7 linked regions of the Homo sapiens genome follow. The protein of the gene in region 1 purifies or fractionates together with the protein of each later gene. This does not show direct contact. Each region holds a gene or a part of one and is shown on either strand. Other genes may lie near its edges. The genes, in order: PLS3, CKAP5, CAST, TALDO1, FLNC, DNAJC7 and WARS1.

Region 1 (3,500 bases):
CACAATGTTTGCTATGGTAATGTTGGCCCTCTGCATGAGAAGCCAAAGGCAACATGTAATAAATGTCTTCCTCCATTGTTAGTTTTCCCCCACTGCTCATGATAAACAGTGAGTGAAAAAAAAATTCAATTCAATGCAAGAAATATGAGGGACTTGTATATGCCACATACTATGTTTTAAGTTGGCTTTAGTAGGAGGGCCCTGGAGCAGGGGCTGAGGTAGGATACACAGACATAAATAAGAGCTCATTGCTATCCTCGAGGAACTCACAACTAAAGGTAGGATAAAATGACAGGAGAGAAGCCAAATAAAAAAGGTGAAGAGGAAATCATGAGGCCCTTCCTATCTCTTCTAGGTGTGTTTACTAACAGGTACACTGAGGCTTGGGAAAGGCAGTTAAGAATAGAATAGTCATGTCCTATTCTTTAATACTCCATGTTTACCAATAGGCAGGATATAACAAATTAGCATTATAATATGATAAATTAGCATAATATTTTTACCTTTTCCCACAAAATAAAACATAGGTGCTAATGTACCTTATCTGGCTCTATTACTCTTCTAAAATCTACCTTCAGGGCCAAGAGACAACAAGGCTTGGTGATACAGTGTTAGGATTTTCTCTCTGTTAAGCTGGGATGAAATCTTCCAGCTATTATATCCCCCCAAAATGTTGTGATTCTTTCAACAGTTACCTTGATGTCAGCACTAAAGTTGTTAATTTTTTGCCAGCCCGAGTTTTCCAAATGAAAGTTTGCCCATCTAAGCAGAAGCTCTTCTGGAGACAATTTCATAAGTTCCTCCAAAGTCTCACCATCTCGGAGTAAAGCAGCCAAGGCTAGAAGAAAAAAAAAAAAATCCCACAGTTATTATATGACACAATAATGGTCATGCCAAGTTCATTCAGTCTTTTGACACTGTTAAGTAATAGAGGTGCAAAAACTACTATGACATAGTTCCTAGTTTCAAGATACTCATAATCTACTAAAAAAGATAAATATATAACAGATATAATAACATAATACTACAATTTATTCTTTTCTCTGTTATTCTTCACATTTCAAATACCAAATGAGGTTATGGCCTTTAAGCTTAATGCAAGCTTCACATTATGTCATATGTTTGTATAAGTTGTTCTTATTTAACACTTCTAAAGTCAAGGATTTGGGTCTGGGTGCAGTGGCTCACGCCTGTAATCCCAGCACTTTGGGAGGCCGAGGCGGGCGGATCACGAGGTCAGGAGATCAAGACCATCCTGGCTAACACGCTGAAACCCCATCTCTACTAAAAATTCAAAAAATTAGCCGGGCGTGGTGGCGGGCGCCTGTAGTCCCAGCTACTTGGGAGGCTGAGGCAGGAGAATGGCGTGAACCCGGGAGGTGGAGCTTGCAGTGAGCTAAGATCGCACCACTGCACTCCAGCCTGGGCAACAGAGCGAGACTCCGTCTCAAAAAAAAAAAAAAAAAAAGTCAGGGATTTGGGGGAAAGATGTTTACAATTTGGGAATCTTTTACTTAACCTTTTGATTAAAGTAGTCTAGAAACACGGTGGTATTTGTATTTAAGTAAAATTAATCAATTAACTCTTGAAGGCTCAATCCTATTTTAACAGAAATATAATTCATCCTTATATTTTCTTTTTCTTTTCTTTCTTTTGAGAGAGTCTCGCACTATTGACCAGGCTGGAGTGCAGTGGCGTGATCTCGGCTCACTGCAACCTCTGCCTCCATGATCTCGGCTCGCTGCAACCTCTGCCTCCCAGGTTCAAGCGATTCTCCTGCCTCAGCCTCCTGACTAGCTGGGACTACAGGCACATGCCACCACGCCCAGGTAACTTTTCTATTGTTTGTAGAGACGGGGTTCCGCCATGTTAGCCAGGGTGGTCTCCAACTCCTGGCCTCAAGTGATCCACCTGTCTCGGCCTCCCAAAGTGCTGGGATTACAGGCATGGTCCAACACACCCGGTTGCAATCTTACATTTTCTCTCTTTTTTTTTCTTTCTTTCTTTTTTTTTTTTTTTTTTTGAGACAGAGTCTCACTCTTTCGCCCAGGCTGGAGTGCAATGGCACAATCTCAGCTCACTGCAACCTCCGCCTTCCGGGTTCAAGCAATTCTCCTGCCTCAGCCTCCGGAGAAGCTGGGACTACAGGCACGTGCCACCTCGCCTGGCTAATTTTTTGTATTTTTAGTAGAAACGGGGTTTCACCATGTTAGCCAGGCTGATTGTGCCACTGCGCTCCAGCCTGGGTGACAGAGTGAGACCCTGTCTCCAAAAAAGAAGATGGTGCAAAATGGTGGAGCTGAGGGTGGCAACGGGGTAGAAGTTGTGTAGGCAGAACAGAAAAAAATAGATAATCAAGTTTGAGGACTTCAGGAAAGCTCCTTAATCTCTCTGTGCTTTTGTGTCATTATTGCAAAATGAATTGTAAAGTGCCAGACAAATGTGAATTACTAGTAAAGAAGAGAGTCATGTAATTAGGCTATTTTCCTGAATAACTCTATAGCATTACCTTATGTTCATTCTAGTTACCACCATTTAATCACCTCCATTAAGTGAGAGCACGAAAGTCTGCATGACTAGAAAAAAATAACCAATAAACAACTGCCAGAATGACTGTGTTCCATTACCTTCATTCCTGCTTAATTCAATGTCAGCGAACAAACCGATCTTAATGATCTGCCAAAGCAGTCCCAAAACCAGATGAGGTTTCCCAGCCCTCAAATCTTCTGCACCAATGTTCACAACATGACACCCAATGGCAGAAGCAGAGTTCAGTGCCAAGTTCAAGTTTTCCTGCAAGACAGCCAAATTACACACTTGCTTCTTGACCTTTCCATTTTTTAGCAGTCTACTTTCTCCCTTCACTGAAAATAACATTCAATGAGGAAATTAATACCCTGTATTAATTTCATCCATATATGTGTCACAAAAAACAAATTCCAGAGTTTTGTGTTAGAAAGCCTAGCTAAGACAAATTTCAGCCTTATTGCTATTGCCTTTTGCAGAATCTCATGAGAAGTTAACTTTGTATTTTTATTTGGTACCTTTTGAAGTATGCTGGCACTAAATGAAAAGGCTGAGTACCACAGTAAATATATCCATGTGAGTAAAGTGTTATAATTCCAAAAATGCCTAAATGGGTGAGAGACCAACAGTACTGCATATGCCCAAAAGAGTTTTAGAAGTTATCAATGTCCACATCCCAAGAGGTGCTCTTCTCTGAGGGAATTTTGCTAATAATCTAATATTCACTTGATAGAAAAAAAAATGCTCCATTTCTTAAGCACGCCAGTTAATTAAGAGCTTATATACTTCTGCTTATCTCTGTAGTGCTTGAACACATTATGAAATGAAAAGAACATGGGGCTTTGAAATTAGAATGGGATTTGAACCTCAGTTCCAACATTAATCTCAGGCAAGCTCAGAAACCTTTCTGAGTCCCAGTTCTGTCTGTATAATCTGGATAACAATCCCACACTCAACAGTTTTTACAAGGATTG
Region 2 (3,500 bases), on another chromosome or scaffold:
ATAAGGACTGGCTCAAAAATGTCATCCAGTTTGTGCTGAACAAGTTCTGGCATTTCACATCGGACTGTACCATTGTCATTCTCAATCTCATCTAGATCCAGCTGGAATTCTCGGCGGACCATCTGGGCTGCCTCAGGATGCCCACTCATGCTTCGGGCTTGGCTAAGGGAAGCAAAAGGAGGCTCCTGAACTAAAAGAGACTTCTTAACCAAAGGGCAAGAGTAGCACTGTCAGTTGCCCCAAAGCTTCAGGACAGATGTTCAACTTCTGGTTTCAGCCCCCCTGAATGATTTAAGTCCCTGAGTCTAAGCAAGTGCCTTTAATAGGTAACAACATTGGTTCATGAATATCCTAAGAGGGCAGATAACTTTAATTTGTACTTACATTACCTGCCAAGTTATAAGTATTTGTTCTAGTTCACTAAAGCCAACAAACCTTGTATTTCTATTCCTGAAGGGGCAGAAAACAATAAAATATATTTGTATTGACTCAAAGTTCACTACTTATGAGCAAATATATAAGAAAAATTTAGACTGGCTGGTTCTTTTCCACCAAATTAACCAGTGCTTTAATTTTGCTAATCATAAGTACCATTCCATGCCGTGTTCAGCACATTTTATATTTTGTGAGACCACCAGTCACCCCTTTTTAGAATATTCACTCTTGACAGGTCAGGGCCAGCTTTACATCCAAGAAATAGGGATTCAAAGTTTCCAAATTCAAGTTCGTTAAAATTATACTCATGACACAACCCAAAATAGAGCTGTCTTGCTTAGGAGGCAGTATTTTGAGTCCCTAAGCCAATTTTGGGTTGCATGTATTTTAATTAGCCTTATCTCAAGAATAGGAAACTAAGCACAACCAAGTATAACACAAAGAAGAAAGTGAATCAGTATTTTAGCCACATGACATTGAACTTTTGTGGAAGACTTGATTCATGGGGTACTTATGGACACCCTCTACCCTGATTATAAACTCTAAGCTAGTCACCCTCCAGAGGGGATGAATCCAAGTCAGAAGTTAGAAAGATATAAGAGCCCTGCTAATGAGAAATTAGCAGGCAGTACTTACATCCTATAAGTGCGATACATAATTCTGTCCACGGAAAAGCAGTGAAAGAAGGCACAAGACCATTTAGAAGTGGTTTTGAGACAAAGACAAAGACAATGAAGACTGAAGAATCAAACATTTGGTTACAATACATTTACCCAGACACTCTGTCATGCATGATAATGGCTACAAGAACTCAAGATTATGTTACAGGACAGGCTGTGAGCACACAAGGCAAAGGCCATGGAGATGCTCTCAGACAAGTATCTCTATCTACATACTTGAGTTTGGAAGACATGTCCTCAGCTGGTCCCTTGCGTAACATGTTGGCATTGGAGCTTATGTTCTGTGCACGCTGAGGTTTCTCTTCCACCTGTTTTATTGGTGCAGCAGAGGGTCTCTTTGCTGACCGCTTAATCCTCTCCTCGAGCATGCTCATATCCTTTTCAGAAAGCTGTAAAGAGGCCAAATTTAGAAACCTAACTGGATAACACAATAATATCTATTTTCATATCAAAACAAATAGAACCTTCTATGTTAGGACATGTTTACTTTCAAAGCACCACATTTCAAAATCAACTACTATTAATACCTGCCTAGCTGCTATAGGAAGAGGAGATATGAAAGAAGGAGAGGGGCTGGGCACAGTGGCTCATGCATGTAATCCCAGCACTTTGGGAGGCCAAAGCAGGAGGATCACTTGAGCCCAGGAGTTTGACACCAGCTTGGGCAACATGGTGAAACCCCATCTATACATAAAGTATAAAAATAAGCTGGGTGTGGTGGCACGCGCCTGTAGTCCTTGCTACTCAGGAGGCTGAAGTCAGAGGATCACTTGAGCCTGGGAGGTCGAGGCTGCGGTGAACCATGATCACACCACTGCACTCCAACCTAGGTGACAGAGCAAGACCCTGTCTCAAAAAAAAAAAAAAAAAGAAACGATAAAAAAAAGAAAGCCAATTAGTAACTACAAATAAAAAGGTCAAAAATTAAATGAAGCTTCCTCATTTTTTGTTTTGTCACCACTATCTAGCTGTGTGACTATGGGCAAGAAACTTCATTTTTGGTCATCTGTAAAATTCCCAACTGCTTTATATTCTTCACTGGGTAGTAGTGAGAATTTAATTAGAAAATATAAGTAAACATATTTAAGCCCTGTGTAAATACATGGTGACACTATGAGGTAACTGAAGACGGAGGTCCAGACTCACTCAAACGAAATAAGAGGTCAGAGGCAGAACCTAATGTGAGTGAAAAACTGGCTCACGGCTGTAGCGCAAGATGTGATCTGACAGATACTAGCATCCACACTATACACAAATAAGCACTTTTTAACCAAAAACTCGATGCAGTAAAAATTACAGAGCAGACTGCCAGGCAGAATTTAAACCCGGGACTAGCTCAGATTTCTTGATTCAAAAATAGCACTCATTTCTAAAGCAAATTTGCTATGAATAGAATGCTCAGAAAAGAAAACTTGATTTCCATTAAAACAGCCTAATCAGAGACACCTCAAGGGTCTATCTGGATTCTAGGACACATTGATAGGTTGAGTTGACTAAAAAGTAGTAAAAACTTAGCTACAGTTGAGAGGACAGGAAACCTAACACCTAGGAGATCTTGCAATTCTTTTCACGACATGCTGACAGTGTTCAGAGAAGTCACTCACATTTCCAATCAGTTTGAACACCTGATCCCCATGTACATTGTACACCGTTACAATGGTGTTGAGTGCAGCATTGCGTACAGCATTGTCACGGTCTCCTATGTGAACAGCTATTTCCTTTAAGGCTTTTCCTGGGGTTGGTTGGCAAACATTCATGCCATAGGACTCAACCAGACATCCCAGCTCTTCCAGGCACTCTGATGGGGGAGAAAGGCTAGATTAATGAGACAACACATATTTGGGACAGAGACTTATCCTTACTAGAGAAATTTCCCTTGGCATATATGAAGGACTAAAACCTTACTCTGGCTCTGCCTAGGATTTTTTGTTTACTGCCTTTTATCAGTGAAAAAATGGTATTTCAGCAAGTGCTCCTGAAAGGAAGAGATGCCTGTGAGTCAGATGGCCCCTGTGCACTTGATTTTGTCACCAGGGTGATACTGAGTGGTGCCTGTATCACCTGATACCATGGCTCCACCAGTGTGCAACTCATCACTCTCACAGTCTAAATCAGGAGGTTGGAATCAACTACATAGGCACTGGAGAAATTTATTTGTTCATCTATAAACTATTTCTTCTATAGGCTACTGCTGCAGAGATTCACATCTCAGTTTAAACTGTTTGCTTCACCTGCTCTCTGCTTAGAGTTTTTGGATTTGGTTCCTTCCATGATAAAGGGAAACATCTTGCTAGCTGGGTAGACAAGGCACATCCGGTTCAGGATGGCACGAACATCTTTACGAATGACATCCTTTGGTTCTCCAACCTAGTCGATAAGGAAAAT
Region 3 (3,500 bases), on another chromosome or scaffold:
CCTGCAATTTCTAATCTCTGGGTTGCCTCACCCTCCCCTGACGGCTTCCCAGCCTTTTTTTTTTTTACCTGGGTAACCAATTCCCTATGTTACACTCCCTTTGTTTTAAATACTCAGAGTCATTTCTGTCTGTTAGTTGACTGCAATAAACTCTGATAGGGCAGAAACAGCCTAGATTTGTAAGGCTATATGACCGTGACCTTGGGCAGATAATTTAATTTTTCAGTTTCTTTTTGTAAAATAGGGCTAATGGTATCTATCCCAGGGGCTGGCAAATTTATGAAAAGAGTTGACATTAGTGAGGCACCTGGTTCATTGCCTTGTTCATTTTAAGAACACAATTAAAATTATTTCACTCCCTTCTTTTTCCCTGGCAATCTGACTGTGGTGAATTAGAAGCCAGTGAGTTAAGGTTTGAGGGTTTCATTTTCTAAGGCTGTAAACATTAGAACAGAAGAATTTAGTATTTTACTTTCCCTAAAGTACAAAGGAACCTTATCAGGTTCATCTGATTAAGTTTTTGTTTAGTACTTTGTCTATCTCATGACTGTGTATTATATATTATTCTCACATCTTCGTATAACACTCAAGGAGATAAACTACATGGGGGTTAAAGAATTCATTTTCCCAACAAACTACAGCAATTTGGTTACAAGGATGACTTATATTTGCAATTCCCATGCTTTAAAACATGTTGAAAGGGTGTGTGTGTGTGTGTGTGTGTGCACGCGTGTCTGTGCTGGTAGCTGTGACGGTTAACAGATAAAACAAGATTAGGACAATGTTGACAATTATTGACACCAATGATTGGTATATGAAGAGGTCATTATACTTATTTATTTATTTATTCATTTATTTATTGAGACGGAGTCTTGCTCTGTCGCCCGGGCTGGAGTGCAGTGGTGCAATCTCGGCTTACTGCAAGCTCCGCCTCGCGGGTTCACGCCATTCTCCTGCCTCAGCCTCCTGAGTAGCTGGAATTACAGGCGCCTGCCACCACGCCCAGCTAATTTTTTTGTATTTTTAGTAGAGATGGGGTTTCACCATCTTGGCCAGGCTGGTCTTGAACTCCTGACCTTGTGATCCATCCGCCTCAGCCTCCCAAAGTGCTGGGATTACAGGCGTGAGCCAACCGCACCCAGCCTCATTATACTCTTCTCTTATTCTGTGTACTAATGCTTAATATATATTAAGGATTAACTGCATAGCTGTAATTCTGAAATCCCTCTGTTTTCACTGAACCCCAAGTGTTCGTTTTTTCTAACATTTTAAGATTTCAGTGGACATGACAAGATGACACTGTAAAGGTACAGGCCCTTTGTGTCCAATTTTCAGAGGTGGCATCTATTGCCTGTCATAGATTAGCTCCTGGGATTCACCTGAAGTAAGGCTGGATGAGTTTTTCTTAAGTCAAAGGGGGTATCATGAGAATTTAAATAGTTGCTTTGTTGCCACAGCAGTTGTCATGAGAATGAACTTGTAGTTTTATCTATGAGAAATGCAAGAGGAGGCCAGGCACAGACCACTGCACGATTTTTTTGTGTCCACCGCACTCTGCACAAAACTGACACACAGCAGGTGGACAATAAACAACTGTGAACATCTTTGAGCTTTACCAAATTTATTCTTATGTTCTATGAGTTTCCTACAACCAAAACAAATTTCATACATTTTTAGGAAACTATAACTTTAGACCTTTTTCTTCCTGAGTTAACTGACTTTTCCATCTGAGGAGATAACTTACATGAACAGTGTTTATTGGATGGAACTGTTCTTGCATTTTTCTTAACTGGAAGACATCTGATATACTTCCCCCTGCCCCCCGCCTTTATGGTGGCTGTAAAGCTTTCTGGGTATGTTTTCATGAAAGGAAAATGAGACAACTCAAAGAACAGAACTTTAGTATCTGTTAATATGATTTTCATCTTAAAAATACCTCAAGGGGGAAAAATGATGTACTACTTAGAGTAGTTTTGTATCTGCTGAGACAATCTAGTCAGAACTAATTACCCACCTATCCACATGGAATCTCACATGACCCCCCACTGTTCCCACCCCCAGAAGGCTATAGCATTCTTTAAAAGGCACCTGTAGAATATAATTAACCTTCTGGGAAGTGCCAAAACTGATTTAAAGAAAGATATTATCAGATGCTACTCTTGGTTTAAAAGGCTTATACACAATGGGGCGCGAACTAATTCAAAGACTGTCAGCTGAAAGAGAAAGGCTGTATTTGACCTCTATGTTTCCATTACCCTAAAGTCTATGCCCTTTTTGCAGGCCCTGTTATTTGCCTTCCTTAGTTCTAAAATTCACTGTGAGCAAGTGATCTGTCCTGCCATGGAAGGCTTGCAACATTCTTCCCAGGCTGGCAGCAATGATGGGGCCTCCCAAATGACTGGGCTCCTTGATCATGCTGTCACTAGGTCTATGGATCTAATTAGGCTAAGAAACACCTTTAATTAACATAGTCTAATAGAATCAACTGATGATTCAGGAATGTGATGACTGGTGTGGGCCAAATTAACCTTCGTTCATGCTTGATCATTACATAGCTCATAGATGTTCTTCAAATTTAGCTCTGCAGAGTTGTGTGGTGTGTGTGTGTGTGTGTGTGTTTACTACAACCACATTTTTCAGAAGATAAAGTCAATAGGATTGATGGCATTCAATGTGGAAATATACATTGCAACGTTTCACTGACTAGCTTTATAGGTGGCATGCTGTTAAACGAACACATCTGAGACATGTCTTTTAATTATTTCATTTTATTCTGCCTAAATTTTGAAAGTTAGATCATTTATAACCTTTTCAGTACTTAAAGGATTCCACAAAGATATTTTAATTATAGGATTTACCTGAAGTATTCTGAGATGTCTGTGTATATACCGATATCTGTGTTTATATCTGTAGATATATATGCATATAAATCTGTCTATATATGTATTATACATGCATGTGTACATACAGACAGACATCTGTATTTATATCTGTAGATACATACACACATAAATCTAGATGTCTACATATGTATTATACATGCATGTGTGTATTATATATAAATATGCACATATATGTATATTGGATTGTATATGTTTGTATGTGTGTATGTATATGTGTGTGTGTGTGTGTATGTGTGTGTGTGTGTGTTATAAACTGGCTCCATGGACCTTTGGGGGATTTATGGGTGGTCTTTTGGAAATCTCTGAACTCCCTGAAGCTATATTGGAAACTGCATTTTGTGTATGTTTGTATGTATTTTGTTGTGGGAAAGCAGTCCATAAATCCCATTTGATTCTCAAAATTGTCTGTGACCACCCACCTATCACCAAAGGAAAAAAAGAAAGTTTAGGAGTCCATGGTCTAGCGCTATACTGTCCATTACTATAGCCCCTAGCTGCTTGTGGCTACTGAACACTCTTGAAATGTGGCAAGTGTGAATTGAGATGTGCTGTTAATGTAAATATACATTGGATTTTGAAGAATTAGTATAAAAAAGA
Region 4 (3,500 bases), on another chromosome or scaffold:
AATATTAGCCAGGTGTGGTGGCGTGCACCTGTAGTCCCAGCTACTTGGGAGGCTGAGGTGGGAGGCTGGCTTGAGCCTAGGATGTAGAGGCTGCAGTGAGCTGAGATTGTGACACTGCACTCCAGCCTAGGTGACAGAGCCAAACTCTATCTCAAAAAAAAAAAAAAAAAAAAATTTGGGGCCATCTGGACATGGGTGCAGGGCTCATCTGTTGATCACCCAGCCAAGCAAAGGCACCAATGTCACCCAATAACAGGAGCACCAAGGCCTCACTGATGCCACAGGGGTGCAACACCACGAGATGAGGAAAAGGGAGCTAAGAAGAGAGAGGAGAGGGTCAGACTCAGTGTCCAGAGTGGCTGTCACAACATGGTCAGGGGAGCCACTCACCAGCCACCTGGACCTAAGCAAAGCCAGTACCAGAGAGGGACCTGCTCCTGTGTGGTGCCCACGTTGCCTGCTCGGCACCATCTTCAAGCTTTGAATTATTACCCTGAAGAGAATCTAAAATGACATCTAAAATATGCAAAGCCACAGGCATGAAGAGGGCTCTACAGTTGCTTGGTTGGGTAAGGGAGTGGGGAGCTACTGCAAACAGGTACCAGAGAACATTCTGGGAGTTATAAAAGCTATTAAAAAATTAAAAAGCCAGGCACGGTGGCTCACGTCTGTAATCCGAGCACTGTGGGAGGCCAAGGCAGGTGGATCACTTGAGGTAAGAAGTTCGAGACCGGCCTGGCCAACATGGTGAAACCCTGTCTCCACCAAAAATACAAAAATTATAGCCAGGTGTGATGGCGCATGCCTGTAATCCCAGCTGCTCGGCAGGCTGAGGCAGGAGAATCGCTTGAATCTGGGAGGCAGAGGTTGCGGTGAGCCGAGATTGTGCCAGTGCACTCCAGCCTGGACAACAAAAGCAAAACTCTGTCTCAAAAAAAAAAAAAAAAAAAATACAAAAATGAGCCAGGAGTGGTGGCACACACCTGTAAGCCCAGCTAATTGGGAAGCTGAGGCAGGAGAATTGCTTGCACCAGGGAGGCGGAAGTTGTAGTGAGCCAAGATTGCTCCACTATACTCCAGCCTGGGTGACACAGCGAGACTCCGTCTGAAAAGTAAAAAATAAAATGACAGCCAGAAGGTAAGTGTTACCAGAGCTGGGGAGACTGACTACAGGAGGGGAGGAGGGGCCTGTGGGGGTCTGCAAGTGCTCTGCATCTTGACTGGGGTGGTATTTACAGGGTACACACATTGGCAAAACTCTCTGAACTGCTCATTTACCACAGGTGCAGGTTACTTCATGCAGATTACACTTCAATAAACAAAAATAGGCAAAAAGATAGGGTTTTTTTCCCCCCTTGAGTTCATGGTGTTTGAGAACTAAAATTCAGTTAGGGAGGGAAGCAAGGCCAACTAGACTAGCACGAGGGCCTAGCTGGGACCCTCCCGAGTCCAGGCACTCACCCGCCCAGCTTCCGGCCATAGGCAATCGCCTCCTCCACCAGCTCCTGGTAAGCGGGCATCTGTGCTGCGGCCAGGATCAGGGACGGGTTGGTGGTAGCATCCTGGGGCTTGTACTCGTCGATGGCTAGGGAAATAGTTTTCAAAAGCCAAAGTAAGTGGAGTACTTGCTTCCAACTGGAAACATGTGAAGGAACCCTGTAATTCCCCAGGACGTTAGGGGAGTCCAGAGCATTTCCGAAAGCGGGGTCCAGCCACACTTCTCACACCTTCTTCTGGGTCACTGAAGGTTCATCAAGAGGCGGCTGTTTGCATAATGATGGAACAACAAACACTAAGTGCCCAGCGATCAAATATGCCCCTGCAAGAGGTGACCTGTAACAGCATGGGAGTGAGCGGTGCGACAGCTGGGAGAACGCTGGTCAAAGGAAAATGTGCATCCCACTGCCGTACCACCACAAGGAGGCGCGCGGTCTAGTCATGAGCCACATGTGAACGCTGATCTTATGGACTGGGTCATTATCACCATACCCAGCTGCAACAGAGTCAAGAAGCCAAGGGGAGCTGGGCGCGGCGGCCCACGCCTGTAATCCCAGCACTTTGGGAGGCTGAAGCGGGTGGATCACGAGGTCAGGAGATCAAGACCATCCTGGCTAACACGGTGAAACCCCGTCTCTACTAAAAATACAAAAAACTAGCTGGGTGTGGTGGTCGGCACCTGTAGTCCCAGCTACTCGGGAGGCTGAGGCAGGAGAATGGCTTGAATCCAGTAGGCGGAGCTTGCAGTGAGCCGAGATCGCGCCACTGCACTCCAGCATGGGTGACAGAGTGAGACTCCATCTCAAAAAAAAAAAAAAAAAAAAAAAAAAAGGCCAAGGGGAAAAGCACTCAGGACACACAGCATTGCTCCAAAAATTATTACCTGCAAGCCTAGTTGCTGAAGCGGCCTCTAACCTGAAACCAGTTTATCTAATAGTTGCTGAACCGCACTGCTGCAACTTTAAGACTAATTTTATCCACTGCTATCACTCACCAATCATTCTTTTTAGGTTTCATAGAAAGACTAAATTAGCCAGGTGTGGTAGTGCATGCCTGTAGCGTCAGCTACTCAAGAGGCTGAGGCAGGAGGATCGCTTGAGCCCAGGAGGTTGAGACTGCAGTGAGCCATGATCATGCCACTACACTCCCACCTGGGCCAGAGAGCAAGACCCTATCTCTTAAAAAAATAAATTCAGGCCGGGTGCAGTGGCTCATGCCTGTAATCCCAGCATTTTGGGAGGCTGAGGCTGGTGGATCGCCTGAGGTCAGGAGTTTGAAACCAGCCTGGCCAAAATGGTGAAACCCAGTCTCTACTAAAAATACAAAAATGAGCTGGGTGTGGTGACACATGCCCGTAATCCCAGCTACTCAGGAGGCTGAGGCAAGAGAATCGCTTGAACCCAGGAGGTGGAGGTTGCAATGAGCTGAGATTGCACCACTGCACTCCAGCCTGGGTGACAGAGTGAGACTCTGTTTCATAAATAAATAAGCAAACAAATAAATAAATATCGCATTCAGTAGCTTCTGCAGGTAACTTGACAAAACCTGACCTAAGAATCCTTTTAGTCGGAGTGGACAACTTTGACAATGTCCCAAGTTTTTGTTCAAATTGTACTGGTGGTCCCTTTTATAAAGCTGACATTCTCTGCTTTAATCAACCCAGTCATAAAATGCTACTCAGTGGCTGGGCACAGTGGCTCACACCTGTAATCCCAGCACTTTGGGAGGCCAACGGGGGTGGATCACTTGAGGTCAGGAGTTCGAGACCAGCCTGGCTAACACGGCGAAACCCTGTCCCTACTAAAAATATAAAAATTAGCCAGGCGTGGTGGTGCATGCCTATAATCCCAGCTACTCGGGAGGCTGTGGCAGGAAAATCACTTGGACCCGGGAGGTGGAGGTTGCAGTGAGCCGAGATTGTGCCACTGCACTACAGCCTGGGCAATGGAGCAAGACTCTGTTGCAAAAAAAAATAAAAAAGTTTTTTTCTTCAGAGTAACCAA
Region 5 (3,500 bases), on another chromosome or scaffold:
CTGCCCTGAGTTGCAGCACTGCTCACTACAGCACTGCCCTCGGGCTGGGTCGGGGTCCCAATGGCTCCTTGAGGGGATTGAGGAGCTGGGACTTCAAGGATATTGATCTGCCTTCTTCCCCACCCTGCCCCCATCTCCTCAGAGGGCACAGAGGAGCCAGTGAAGGTGCGGGAGGCTGGGGATGGTGTGTTCGAGTGCGAGTACTACCCGGTGGTGCCTGGGAAGTATGTGGTGACCATCACGTGGGGCGGCTACGCCATCCCTCGCAGGTGAGTACCTTGCGCCCCCCATGCTGTCCTGTCTAGGCCATCACAGGGAGGGACGAGGGGCACTGGGCTGCGAGGGAGTTTGAGGGGAGATGGAGTTTGGGCTGCGAGGGACTTTGGGGGGCACTTCCTGGCATGGACACCAGCTCCCTCTCTGCCCAGCCCCTTTGAGGTACAGGTGAGCCCAGAGGCAGGAGTGCAAAAGGTCCGGGCCTGGGGTCCTGGTTTGGAGACTGGCCAGGTGGGCAAGTCAGCCGATTTTGTGGTGGAAGCCATTGGCACCGAGGTGGGGACACTGGGTAAGTGGCTGGGGGGCAGGAGGAGGGAGTGCTGCGGGGGAGGGCAGCAGGGGACACTGTGGGTAATGGGTGCAGTGCGCATGCTGGGGAGCGCTGGGGTGAGCAGGGAGATAGGACATGAGGGCAGCTAGAGGGGAGCTGGGGGACGGAAGGGTCTTGCCTGATGCTGGATCCCCGACCCTCCCCCACCTTGCCCCAGGCTTCTCCATCGAGGGGCCCTCACAAGCCAAGATCGAATGTGACGACAAGGGGGATGGCTCCTGCGATGTGCGGTACTGGCCCACGGAGCCTGGGGAGTACGCTGTGCACGTCATCTGTGACGATGAGGACATCCGAGACTCACCCTTCATTGCCCACATCCTGCCCGCCCCACCTGACTGCTTCCCAGATAAGGTGTGGTCCCAGCTCACACACACCTGCCCCGGGGGTGGGGCAAGCTGGTTCTCCTCCCCTCCCCAACTCAGCCTTCTTCCCTCCGCACAGGTGAAGGCCTTTGGGCCTGGCCTGGAGCCTACCGGCTGCATCGTGGACAAGCCCGCTGAGTTCACCATTGATGCTCGTGCAGCTGGCAAGGGAGACCTGAAGCTCTATGCCCAGGTAGGTCATTGTCCAGTCTCTGCTGCCCTTACTACCCATGGCAGGGACCCTGGAAGGCAGGGCCAGGCCAGAGGCAGAGGCCTCCCAGCAGGAAATGACAGCATCACAGAAGATCAGGCAGGACTGATACTCATGGGCCCATCAGTACCATGGAAAATTTTAAATTTTGTGTTTTCTTAACGATGATAACCTAAAAACGTATTTTACCAAAGAGTCATTTTTGTGCTAATTTGTAATTGAAAGATTGTTTCATTGAATAAGACACTGGTTTCCCAAGTCAGTTTCTCAGACTGGTGTCCATTGACCCCTAGAGGTTAATGAACATATTCTTGAGGATCTAAGAGGGTGATTCTTCTTTGAAAGGCTCATGATTCAGTTTTAGGAACATAAATTTAGCCCACACTCTTCCTGTCCAACACATTTCAGAGTTGAGGAAACCTAGGCTGGGAGAGCAAGCCATACAGATGGCCTTGAGTCAGGCTCCCAGGGTGGGCTCTGGCCGCCAGAGCACGTGGCCCTGGGCTCTGGTGGCCTCAGTGGCTGGTGTGGGGGCGGGAGTGCCAGTGTTGGGGGTGGGAAAGGAGGCGCTGGGTTCACCTGCGGCCAGCAGAGGGCGCTCTGCAGAGGCCACAGCTATGAACTTTGCTTGGGTGATGCCCACAGGACGCCGACGGCTGTCCCATCGACATCAAGGTGATCCCCAACGGCGACGGCACCTTCCGCTGCTCCTACGTGCCCACCAAGCCCATTAAGCACACCATCATCATCTCCTGGGGAGGCGTAAACGTGCCCAAGAGCCCCTTCCGGGTGCGTCCTCCCGGCCTGCCCCGTGCCCACCACCAGGGGTCCCTGAGGGAGGGCGGAACCCTCGCTGGAGTCCCTGTTGTCCCTGGGCTCAGGCTGGGACTGAGGCTTGGGCTGGTGCCACTGAGGCTGGGCCGGGTGCGCTGGGCAGGAGGATGAGCCTTGAGGGAGGGCACCACGCTGAGCTGCGACCCCTCCCGCAGGTGAACGTGGGCGAGGGCAGCCACCCCGAGCGGGTAAAGGTGTACGGCCCCGGAGTGGAGAAGACAGGCCTCAAGGCCAATGAGCCCACCTACTTCACGGTGGACTGCAGCGAGGCGGGGCAAGGTGCGCCCAGCCGGAAGGGGTGGGTCTGGGAGGGGGCGGGGGTGAGTCGAGTCGGGGGCTGAGCCCAACTCACAGCAGTGCCCGCTTCTCTGCAGGCGACGTGAGCATCGGCATCAAGTGCGCCCCAGGCGTGGTGGGCCCTGCAGAGGCTGACATTGACTTCGACATCATCAAGAATGACAACGACACCTTCACCGTCAAGTACACGCCACCAGGGGCGGGCCGCTACACCATCATGGTGCTGTTTGCCAACCAGGTACCTAAGCTCCTGGGTACTCACAGCGACATGCACCTGCCAGCTCCAGAAGGCAGCTGGAGATGCTGTCACTGGGAACAGGGAGGGATGATTCCGCAGACATGGTGGAGCCCTACCTGTGTGAGGCAGGGTGCCTCAGAGGAAGCAAAGGGGGCCCTTTTGGAGGCTGCCCCTGTCCATGCTGGGTCCCCTGGGTGTGTCCTGAGCCAGCATCTAGCTGAGAGCAGGGGTGTGTTCCCCTCGAGAGCCCTGACTGAGCCTCCTCCACATCCAGGAGATCCCCGCCAGCCCCTTCCACATCAAGGTGGACCCATCCCACGATGCCAGCAAAGTCAAGGCCGAGGGCCCTGGGCTGAATCGCACAGGTGAGTGTCTGGGCAGGGGCTGGGACTGGCTCGAGGTTGGGGTTAGGTGGCTGCCAGGCCCTCACCACATCTCTGGGTGGGTCCTCAGGTGTGGAAGTCGGGAAGCCCACCCACTTCACGGTGCTGACCAAGGGAGCCGGCAAGGCCAAGCTGGATGTGCAGTTTGCAGGGACAGCCAAGGGCGAGGTTGTGCGGGACTTTGAGATCATAGACAACCATGACTACTCCTACACTGTCAAGTACACCGCTGTCCAGCAGGTGCGCTCTGCCCCTCCCATGCTACCGCCCGGCCGGCCCGCCAGAGCCCTGGGTCTCCCTCCTCCAGTCCCATGGGACCAGTTCTGGATCCTCCACGCCTTTCCTGCCTCCTGCCCTCACTCTCATGGTGGATCTGAGCTTCAGAGCCCATATTCACCACCAGGATGTTGTAGGACCTTGCCTTATATCCAGTTCTGACCTACCATTGTACCCAACAGGGCAACATGGCAGTGACAGTGACTTATGGCGGGGACCCTGTCCCCAAGAGCCCCTTTGTGGTGAATGTGGCACCCCCGCTGGACCTCAGCAAAATCAAAGTTCAGGGCCT
Region 6 (3,500 bases), on another chromosome or scaffold:
ACAGAGCAGGACTCCATCTTAAAAAAAAAAAAAAGAAAAAGAAAAAAGAAAATCTACCCAGACTTAGGTTCCTCACTTTAGCCTCACCACACAAAAAATGAAATGAAAACGACAGGGAGGATCTGGAACCAGAAAATAGGTGCCTCATGCCCCAACCCAAGATATCTGTTCACTTTTTTTTTCTTTTTTTTGTTTTTGTTTTTGAGATGAAGTCTCGCTCCGTCACCCAGGCTGGAGTATAGTCGCGCAATCTTAGCTCACTGCAACCTCCGCCTCCTGGGTTCAAGGAATTCTCGTGCCCCAGCCTCCTGAGTGGCTGGGATTACAGGCGTATACCACCATACCCACAATTTTTTGTATTTTCAGTAGAGATGGGGTTTCACCATGTTGGCCAGTCTGGTCTCCAACTCCTGATCTCAGGTGATCTGCCTGCCTCAGCCTCCCAAAGTGCTGGGGATTACAGGCGTGAGCCACCACGCCCAGCCTTTGTTCACTTCTTTCTGGCTGGTGATCAAATAAGTTCTAGGTAGATCCCTGATCCCTGAATCAAACTACCTTGTGTACAGATTTATGGCCTACGAAGTCCACACAGTTCCCTAAAAAACAAATGCTTTTAAACTTACCTTTTGTTTTCTCTGTCTGGTATACTTTTTCATAGTCTCGTACTGCTTCTTCATACTGTTCTGTGTCCATGTAACTGAGAAGGAAATACAAGGCAATACAGCACTAAGACATAAATAGCAGTGGTTCTCAGGATCACTCTAGGGCAAGAGGCATGGCTCAAGCAAGAGACACACACTTCTGGTAAGATGCTTCAGAAACAGGAGCCCTTAATCTAGCAGTGAGAGAAAATTAGCTAACAAGTCCTCAAGGAAATAAAAAGAGAGGTCGCATGGCACTTGCATCCAACCAGCAAAGTGATGTTCAGCTTTGAGCAGAAAGTAATCAAGAGGAAAAAGTTCCTTCTGACACACAGCCACCTAAGAGGTACTGGACTGCCTTAGAAAAGACAATGTGAAGGGATCTACTTGATTACTTTGGGTTGAAACACACAAGAGAAAAATTATCAAGTGAATAAATGGGTATGAAAGAGCTTTGAAACCTATAGTGCCATAAACATGCAGGACTAGCTACAATCCAGAATAGAGGTGGGATTAGTGAGCCACTAAAAGGATCAAGTTCAACGTGGCAGCTGCTGGCAAATCCCTCCACTAAGACCAATCAATGAGAGATGCAGGTAAATGAGACAGAAAAGGGAACTCTAAACACAGGTTTGCTTCTATTTCAGTAGCACAAAAGAAAGGAGGGGCCCTTGGCCCAAGATCGGAGGAATCAAGCTTGACAGGATGATTGCGAGATCTTTTTTTTTTTTTTTTTTTTTTGAGATGGAGTCTCGCTCTGTTGCCCAGACTGCAGTGCAGTGGTGTGATCTCGGATCACTGCAAGCTCCGCCTCCTGGGTTCACGCCATTCTCCTGCCTCAGCCTCCAGAGTAGCTGGGACTACAGGCGCCCGCCACCTCGCCCAGCTAATTTTTTATTTTTTTTTTTAGTAGAGACAGGGTTTCACCGTGTTAGCCAGGATGGTCTCCATCTCCTGACCTCGTGATCCGCCTGCCTTGACCTCCCAGAGTGTTGGGATTATAGGCGTGAGCCACCGCACCCGGCCGACTGCCAGATCTTTTAAGTGTCTCTTCCACAGAAGCAAGTGGCATTTTCCATGCCCAGATAAAATCACTGGCACCAGGGCTGGCCTACCAATTGAAGACTGTGGTAGGAGTTCCAGAGACAGCCACTGTCAGCTGGGGAATGGGAAGTGATCATGCAGTACAGCTAGCTGCTGTACAACAGAGATTCAATTTCTTACCTGCTACCACACAAGCCCATTTTCTTTCTTTTTTTTTTTTGACACAGAGTCTCACTCTGTAGCCCAGGCTGGAGTGTAATGGCACGATCTCTGCTCACTGCAACCTCCGCCTCCCAGGTTTCAAGTGATTCTCCTGCCTCAGCCTCCTGAGTAGCTGGGATTACAGGCATGTGCCACCACACCTGGCTAATTTTTTGTATTTTTAGTAGAGATGGGGTTTCACCATGTTGGCCAGGCTGGTCTCGATCTCCTGACCTGAACCGATCTGCCCGCCTCGGCCTCCCAAAGTGCTGGGATTATAGGCGTGAGCCACTGCGCCTGGCATAAGCCCATTTTCACAAACATCACAGATCCCCACCAGCTTGGAGGCCAGGGCAGGAGAGTGCTACCAATGTGGCTGGCAAAAGAGAAGCCCAACATCTTGGGCATCTTTGATTTTCTGGCATCATTTTGATTTATGACTTTAAAAAAACCAATGGCCTGCAAATACAGGACATAAATATTATATTAGGAGTTCAGAATCAATGTACAGAATAAAATGTAATAATTTGAAGTAAGAGAAATGATACTTTGATACTGCACTCCAGCCTGGGTGACAGAGCTGGATCCTGAATTAAAAAAAAAAAAAAAAGGAAAATTGATAGCTGATAGCCCTGGGTATAGAATGATGTGACAAATGATTAACCCTGATGAACTTTCTTTAGGTCTATATGTAATGTATTAAACAAACTATACTAATTTGCATTTTTACTTCATGCTTTTTAAAATTCAGGGATATCCTCACATTTTAATTTTGTTTTAAAGTTGAAGTAGAAAAGTAAATAGGGCTTTAAGGAGAAAGGGTGAACTCTAGCTCATGATGGCATGTGTAGCAAAGATGTGGGTGGGTGGCATCTCCCCAGCTTTAGGGGTAAGTTGAGGCAGACTGCAGCAGTAGTCAGGCCAGATGTAAGGGTTTGGCCCGAGCTAATCTCCAGTACTTCTTGTCAATTCCAGCTGCTTCAGGAGATTGTTGCCAAATATTCAGCCAGCTGAACAGGGCATGCTGTCTCCCCTGTAGTGATCTCAGAGGCAGAGCCACTCCAAGAAGGGCAGTTCTGTTTCTACCACAAAGATAAGAAGTTGTCTGATCAAAGCAATTCCTTATTTTCATTTCTTGCACATAAACAAAGAAGAAAATAATCCTTCATCCAATTATCCTCCGAGCAAATCAAGAATTTTCTATGGTGTTGGGGGCTTGCTTAAAAAAAAAAAAAAAAAAAAAAAAAAAAAAAAGGCCGGGCGCGGTGGCTCACACCTGCTGGTAATTCCAGAACTTTGGGAGGCCAAGACAGGCAGATCACTTGTCATCAGGAGTTTGAGAACAGCCTGGCCAACATGATGAAACCCCATCTCCAATAAAAATACAAAAATTTGCTGGGTGTGGTGACATGCGCCGGTAATCTCAGCTACTTCGGAGGCTGAAGCAGGAAATTCGCTTGAACTCAGGAGGTGGAGGTTGCAGTGAGCCAGTACGGTGCTACTGCACTCCAGCCTGAGCGACATAGCGAGACTCCATCCCGAGCGACATAGCGAGACTCCATCCCAAAAAATAAAACAAAGCGATTTTTCTCTTCTCTTCCCATCCCCTGGCAT
Region 7 (3,500 bases), on another chromosome or scaffold:
CTGGGATTACAGGCATGCACCACCACACCCAGCTAATTTTGTATTTTTAGTAGAGATGGGGGTTTCACCACGTTGGTCAGGCTGGTCTCAAACCCCTGACCTCAGGTGATCTGTCCACCTTGGCCTCCCAAAGTGCTGGGATTACCAGCATGAGCCACCACGCCAGCCTTGGTTATAGTTTTAAATGTATTTTTCCTTTATCAACATTGGGATGCCTGTGGTCTAAAGAGTCAGGGGTTCTCAAAGCCTTTGTGAAATACAGTGGCCCTCCAGCCCACCTCTCCCTATTTCCTGCTCAATTCTTTTAGCCGATCTTTTGGTTATGTACTCCCCATATCTGTAAATATTCTGCTTATCATATTGTTCCTTGTTGATTTTCAAGTTGGGGTCTTTCAGGTGGAAATGAAGCATTCGTACCTTCACAACCACTTCCCGTCCAGGCAGTCTCCCCATCTGTATTGCAGTTGTAGTTAGGTCAGTATCTGTACACTGACATTATTATGACCATGGAAATAGACGTGGACAGCTGAACCATCACGGATAGAATGAGTACTCTAACTTTCTCGCCCAGCTTTTGTTTTCTCTGGAGTTAATATTTGTCTTAATATCTGTTTGCTTGACTTTTTTATGTCAATGATACTAATGATAATGTATCTCCAAGCCCTTTCCCTGTCCAGTGAATCTCCTTTCAACACACATCAACTAGTCTATCAAGTTCATCTTCTTGAGGCGATCTCTCCCAAAACCTTCTGCCTGCTTCCCTCTGAAGTGGGGGCTCTTGCTTCCTACACTGCCCATCTTGGCGTCTTTCTTCACTGTCGACCCAAGGGGTTCTTTCACCCCTGTCGATTGGGTGCCCCGTTTCCTGCTCCTGCATCTTTATTCCTCTTTGCTTTACTCTTTGGGCAGAGCAAATCTTCCAATTGTTTCTGAAAAAAATATTGCAAAGGAAATATTTCTAGGGGGATCTTGCCCATCTGAAAGCGTATTTATTTTACCTAAAACATGATTGATAGCCAGGCTGGGTGTAGGGTTCTAGCATGGAAGTGATTTCCCCTGGAAATGCTGAAGCCACTGCTCTATTGGCACCTAGCTTCTGGGCTTGCTGCAGAGAAGTCAGTTGCCATTCCTTTGTTTTTTCTTTTTGGAAGTTAGCAGGATCTTCTTTGTTCCCGTGTTCTGAAATTTCATGGGATGCAGGTTCAGTATGCCTTTCTTTTTTTTTTTTTTTTTTTTTTTGCCACCCCACCCCCGCCCCCCGAGATGGAATCTCACTCTTTCACCCAGGCTGGAGTGTGGTGGCACAATCTCGACTCACCGCAACCTCCGCCTCCTGGGTTCAAGCAGTTCTCCTGTCTTAGCCTCCCAAGTAGCTGGGATTACAGGCATCCGCCACCATACCAGGCTAATTTTTGTATTTTTAGTAGAGACGGGGTTTCACTATATTAGCCAGGCTGATCTCAAACTCCTGACCTCATGATCTGCCCACCTCGGCCTCCGAAAGTGCTGGGATTACAGGCGTGAGCCACCACACTCAGCCTGCCTTTTAGACTAGAAACTCATGGCCGTTAATTCTCAGAAATCATGATTTCTTTGATCTCTTCTGTTTTCTCTCTTCACAGACTTTTTTTTTTAATTCAGAGACTGTTTCTCTGATTTTCTAACCCTCCTATTGTTTTCCATTTCTGCTATCATTTTTAACTTCCAGGAGCATGTATGCTCCCTGAAGTTTCCTCACAGCACTCTGCCCTGACTCATAGGTACAGTACCACCCTTTTCTCTCTGAGATTTTTTTTTTTAATCTTATTTTACTGTATTAAATCTTACTAATATTCTGTAAGGGACAAACCAGACGAGTAGGCTACAGTGAAGAAATCTTATTTTGGAGAGTTAAGAAACCACTATGATACTTCCAGGTATTATCTTCAGTGATGCTTCTTATCTTTATTCAGGGACTCCAGGTAATATTCAGCTCCTACAGCTACCACAAATGCAGCAAATCCCCATTTGAATCCTTTAAACAATACATCAAAAAAGGAAACACTCTTTGCAAAGCCACCCATGTATCTTCAAGCTTCATTGTGGCCCCACGGATCCCTTAGCCCTTTTTCAGCCAGCTTCTTCTGGATAGTTTCTAATGGTGTCCCTTCTGTCTTCCGTTGTCTGTAATCTAGAAGTTCCATTTTACGATGTCCATGCTCATGTCCATGTCCATGGGCCATGTCTGACAGCAATCTGACCTCTCAGGACACTCAACTCTCTCTCTCTGAGATCTTAATGGTAGTTTTCCATATGTCCTCTACATCCTTTATAACCTCAGTTTCTTCCATCTTAATTTGTTTTCTACCTGCCTTTCATATTAGAGGCAATTCTCAACTGTTTGGTGTTTCTTGGCTATTTGCTGGTGTTTTGGGGGGTGCACTGAAAGCTGCTGGATGCACTCTTCATTGGGGAAGAGCTTATCAACATAGGTTCCACTTCCTGGAGAGTGACCAGGCTGCTCCCCTTTTGTTGGGGAATCTTTCGTGTCAAGGTCTTTAGATCTTTTCTTTAAAGTTAAGTGAGATTCCCCAGAGAAAGCTCCCCCAGTCCACTGTTCAGAGGGGGTGAGTCCCGCTGCCAGAGTTCTACGGCTGAGTGGGAGAGAAGGGCTGGGCTGTGGGATCCTTCCCCGAAGCTCCCTATTCTCTGTGTGCTGCCAGTGCCCCAACTGTGCAGACTGCCCCCAGTCTAGGCACCTGTAACTCTGTCCTCTCTTGACATGAAACCTTGGAATGGAGGGGAAACTGTGACACTCCCTTGGCCGAGGGGAGAGGGATTCTCAATAACTGCTTCTTGAAGAGACTTCAACCAGCGCTCCTGTTTTCATAACCCGCTTTCCTGCCCCCACTCCTGTAAGTGCGCAAGGTCACTAAGGCCCGAACCTTTGGGTGATTCCGTAACAGTGTACACTCGGTCACCTTCCAGTATTTCCATGATGTCTTAGCATTTGTTTTTCTCTCATGCTGTTAGGCACTGATCATTCATCAGCTTTCTGGCTTCTGAAACCTTGTTGCTGTCATCCTCTTCTTGTTTCCTTTGTCCTTGTGGGATTATGCTTTAAAAAAAAAAAAAAAAAAGAAGATCTCTGCTTTTGTTGTAGTAGATTTCAGAAATATCATCATCAATACGCATCTTTAACTAGAACATAAGCATTTCATTTCCTTCTGGGGTGACTCCACTCCGGCTTCTCCATGACTTCCATCACTTTTTTTTTTTTTTTTTTTTTGAGGCTGAGTCTCACTCTGTCGCCCAGGCTGGAGTGCACTGGCACAGTCTTGGCTCACTACAACCTCTGCCTCCTGAGTTCGAGCGATTCTCCTGCCCTGGCCTCGTAAGTAGCTGGGACTGCAGGCGCCCGCCACCACACCCGGCTAATTTTTGTATTTTTAGTAGAGAGGGGGTCTTGCCATGTTGGCCAGGCTAATCTTGAACTCCTGATCTCAGGTGATCCGCCCGCC

The links.
Region 2: the proteins of PLS3 (region 1) and CKAP5 fractionate together in Homo sapiens (co-fractionation; one large-scale study listed by BioGRID). This does not show direct contact.
Region 3: the proteins of PLS3 (region 1) and CAST fractionate together in Homo sapiens (co-fractionation; one large-scale study listed by BioGRID). This does not show direct contact.
Region 4: the proteins of PLS3 (region 1) and TALDO1 fractionate together in Homo sapiens (co-fractionation; one large-scale study listed by BioGRID). This does not show direct contact.
Region 5: the proteins of PLS3 (region 1) and FLNC fractionate together in Homo sapiens (co-fractionation; one large-scale study listed by BioGRID). This does not show direct contact.
Region 6: the proteins of PLS3 (region 1) and DNAJC7 fractionate together in Homo sapiens (co-fractionation; one large-scale study listed by BioGRID). This does not show direct contact.
Region 7: the proteins of PLS3 (region 1) and WARS1 fractionate together in Homo sapiens (co-fractionation; one large-scale study listed by BioGRID). This does not show direct contact.

Annotation. Positions count from the first base shown.
Region 1 is NC_000023.11:115,634,174-115,637,673, reverse strand, and holds part of PLS3 (plastin-3), read right to left. Parts: intron 2,794-3,500; coding exon 2,628-2,793; intron 839-2,627; coding exon 696-838; intron 1-695. UniProt on the Homo sapiens protein: Actin-bundling protein.
Region 2 is NC_000011.10:46,759,281-46,762,780, forward strand, and holds part of CKAP5 (cytoskeleton-associated protein 5), read right to left. Parts: intron 3,483-3,500; coding exon 3,347-3,482; intron 3,220-3,346; exon of another isoform or gene 3,109-3,219; intron 2,914-3,108; coding exon 2,720-2,913; intron 1,505-2,719; coding exon 1,332-1,504; intron 163-1,331; coding exon 1-162. UniProt on the Homo sapiens protein: Binds to the plus end of microtubules and regulates microtubule dynamics and microtubule organization. Acts as a processive microtubule polymerase. Promotes cytoplasmic microtubule nucleation and elongation. Plays a major role in organizing spindle poles.
Region 3 is NC_000005.10:96,665,376-96,668,875, reverse strand, and holds part of CAST (calpastatin), read right to left. Parts: intron 1-3,500.
Region 4 is NC_000011.10:753,964-757,463, reverse strand, and holds part of TALDO1 (transaldolase), read right to left. Parts: intron 1,586-3,500; coding exon 1,462-1,585; intron 1-1,461. UniProt on the Homo sapiens protein: Catalyzes the rate-limiting step of the non-oxidative phase in the pentose phosphate pathway. Catalyzes the reversible conversion of sedheptulose-7-phosphate and D-glyceraldehyde 3-phosphate into erythrose-4-phosphate and beta-D-fructose 6-phosphate.
Region 5 is NC_000007.14:128,840,406-128,843,905, forward strand, and holds part of FLNC (filamin-C), read left to right. Parts: intron 1-142; coding exon 143-269; intron 270-428; coding exon 429-565; intron 566-764; coding exon 765-958; intron 959-1,048; coding exon 1,049-1,162; intron 1,163-1,825; coding exon 1,826-1,969; intron 1,970-2,169; coding exon 2,170-2,293; intron 2,294-2,388; coding exon 2,389-2,549; intron 2,550-2,823; coding exon 2,824-2,914; intron 2,915-3,002; coding exon 3,003-3,172; intron 3,173-3,390; coding exon 3,391-3,500.
Region 6 is NC_000017.11:41,982,940-41,986,439, forward strand, and holds part of DNAJC7 (dnaJ homolog subfamily C member 7), read right to left. Parts: intron 2,969-3,500; exon of another isoform or gene 698-2,968; coding exon 624-697; intron 1-623. UniProt on the Homo sapiens protein: Acts as a co-chaperone regulating the molecular chaperones HSP70 and HSP90 in folding of steroid receptors, such as the glucocorticoid receptor and the progesterone receptor.
Region 7 is NC_000014.9:100,365,348-100,368,847, reverse strand, and holds part of WARS1 (tryptophan--tRNA ligase, cytoplasmic), read left to right. Parts: intron 1-1,804; exon of another isoform or gene 1,805-2,260; intron 2,261-3,500. UniProt on the Homo sapiens protein: Catalyzes the attachment of tryptophan to tRNA(Trp) in a two-step reaction: tryptophan is first activated by ATP to form Trp-AMP and then transferred to the acceptor end of the tRNA(Trp).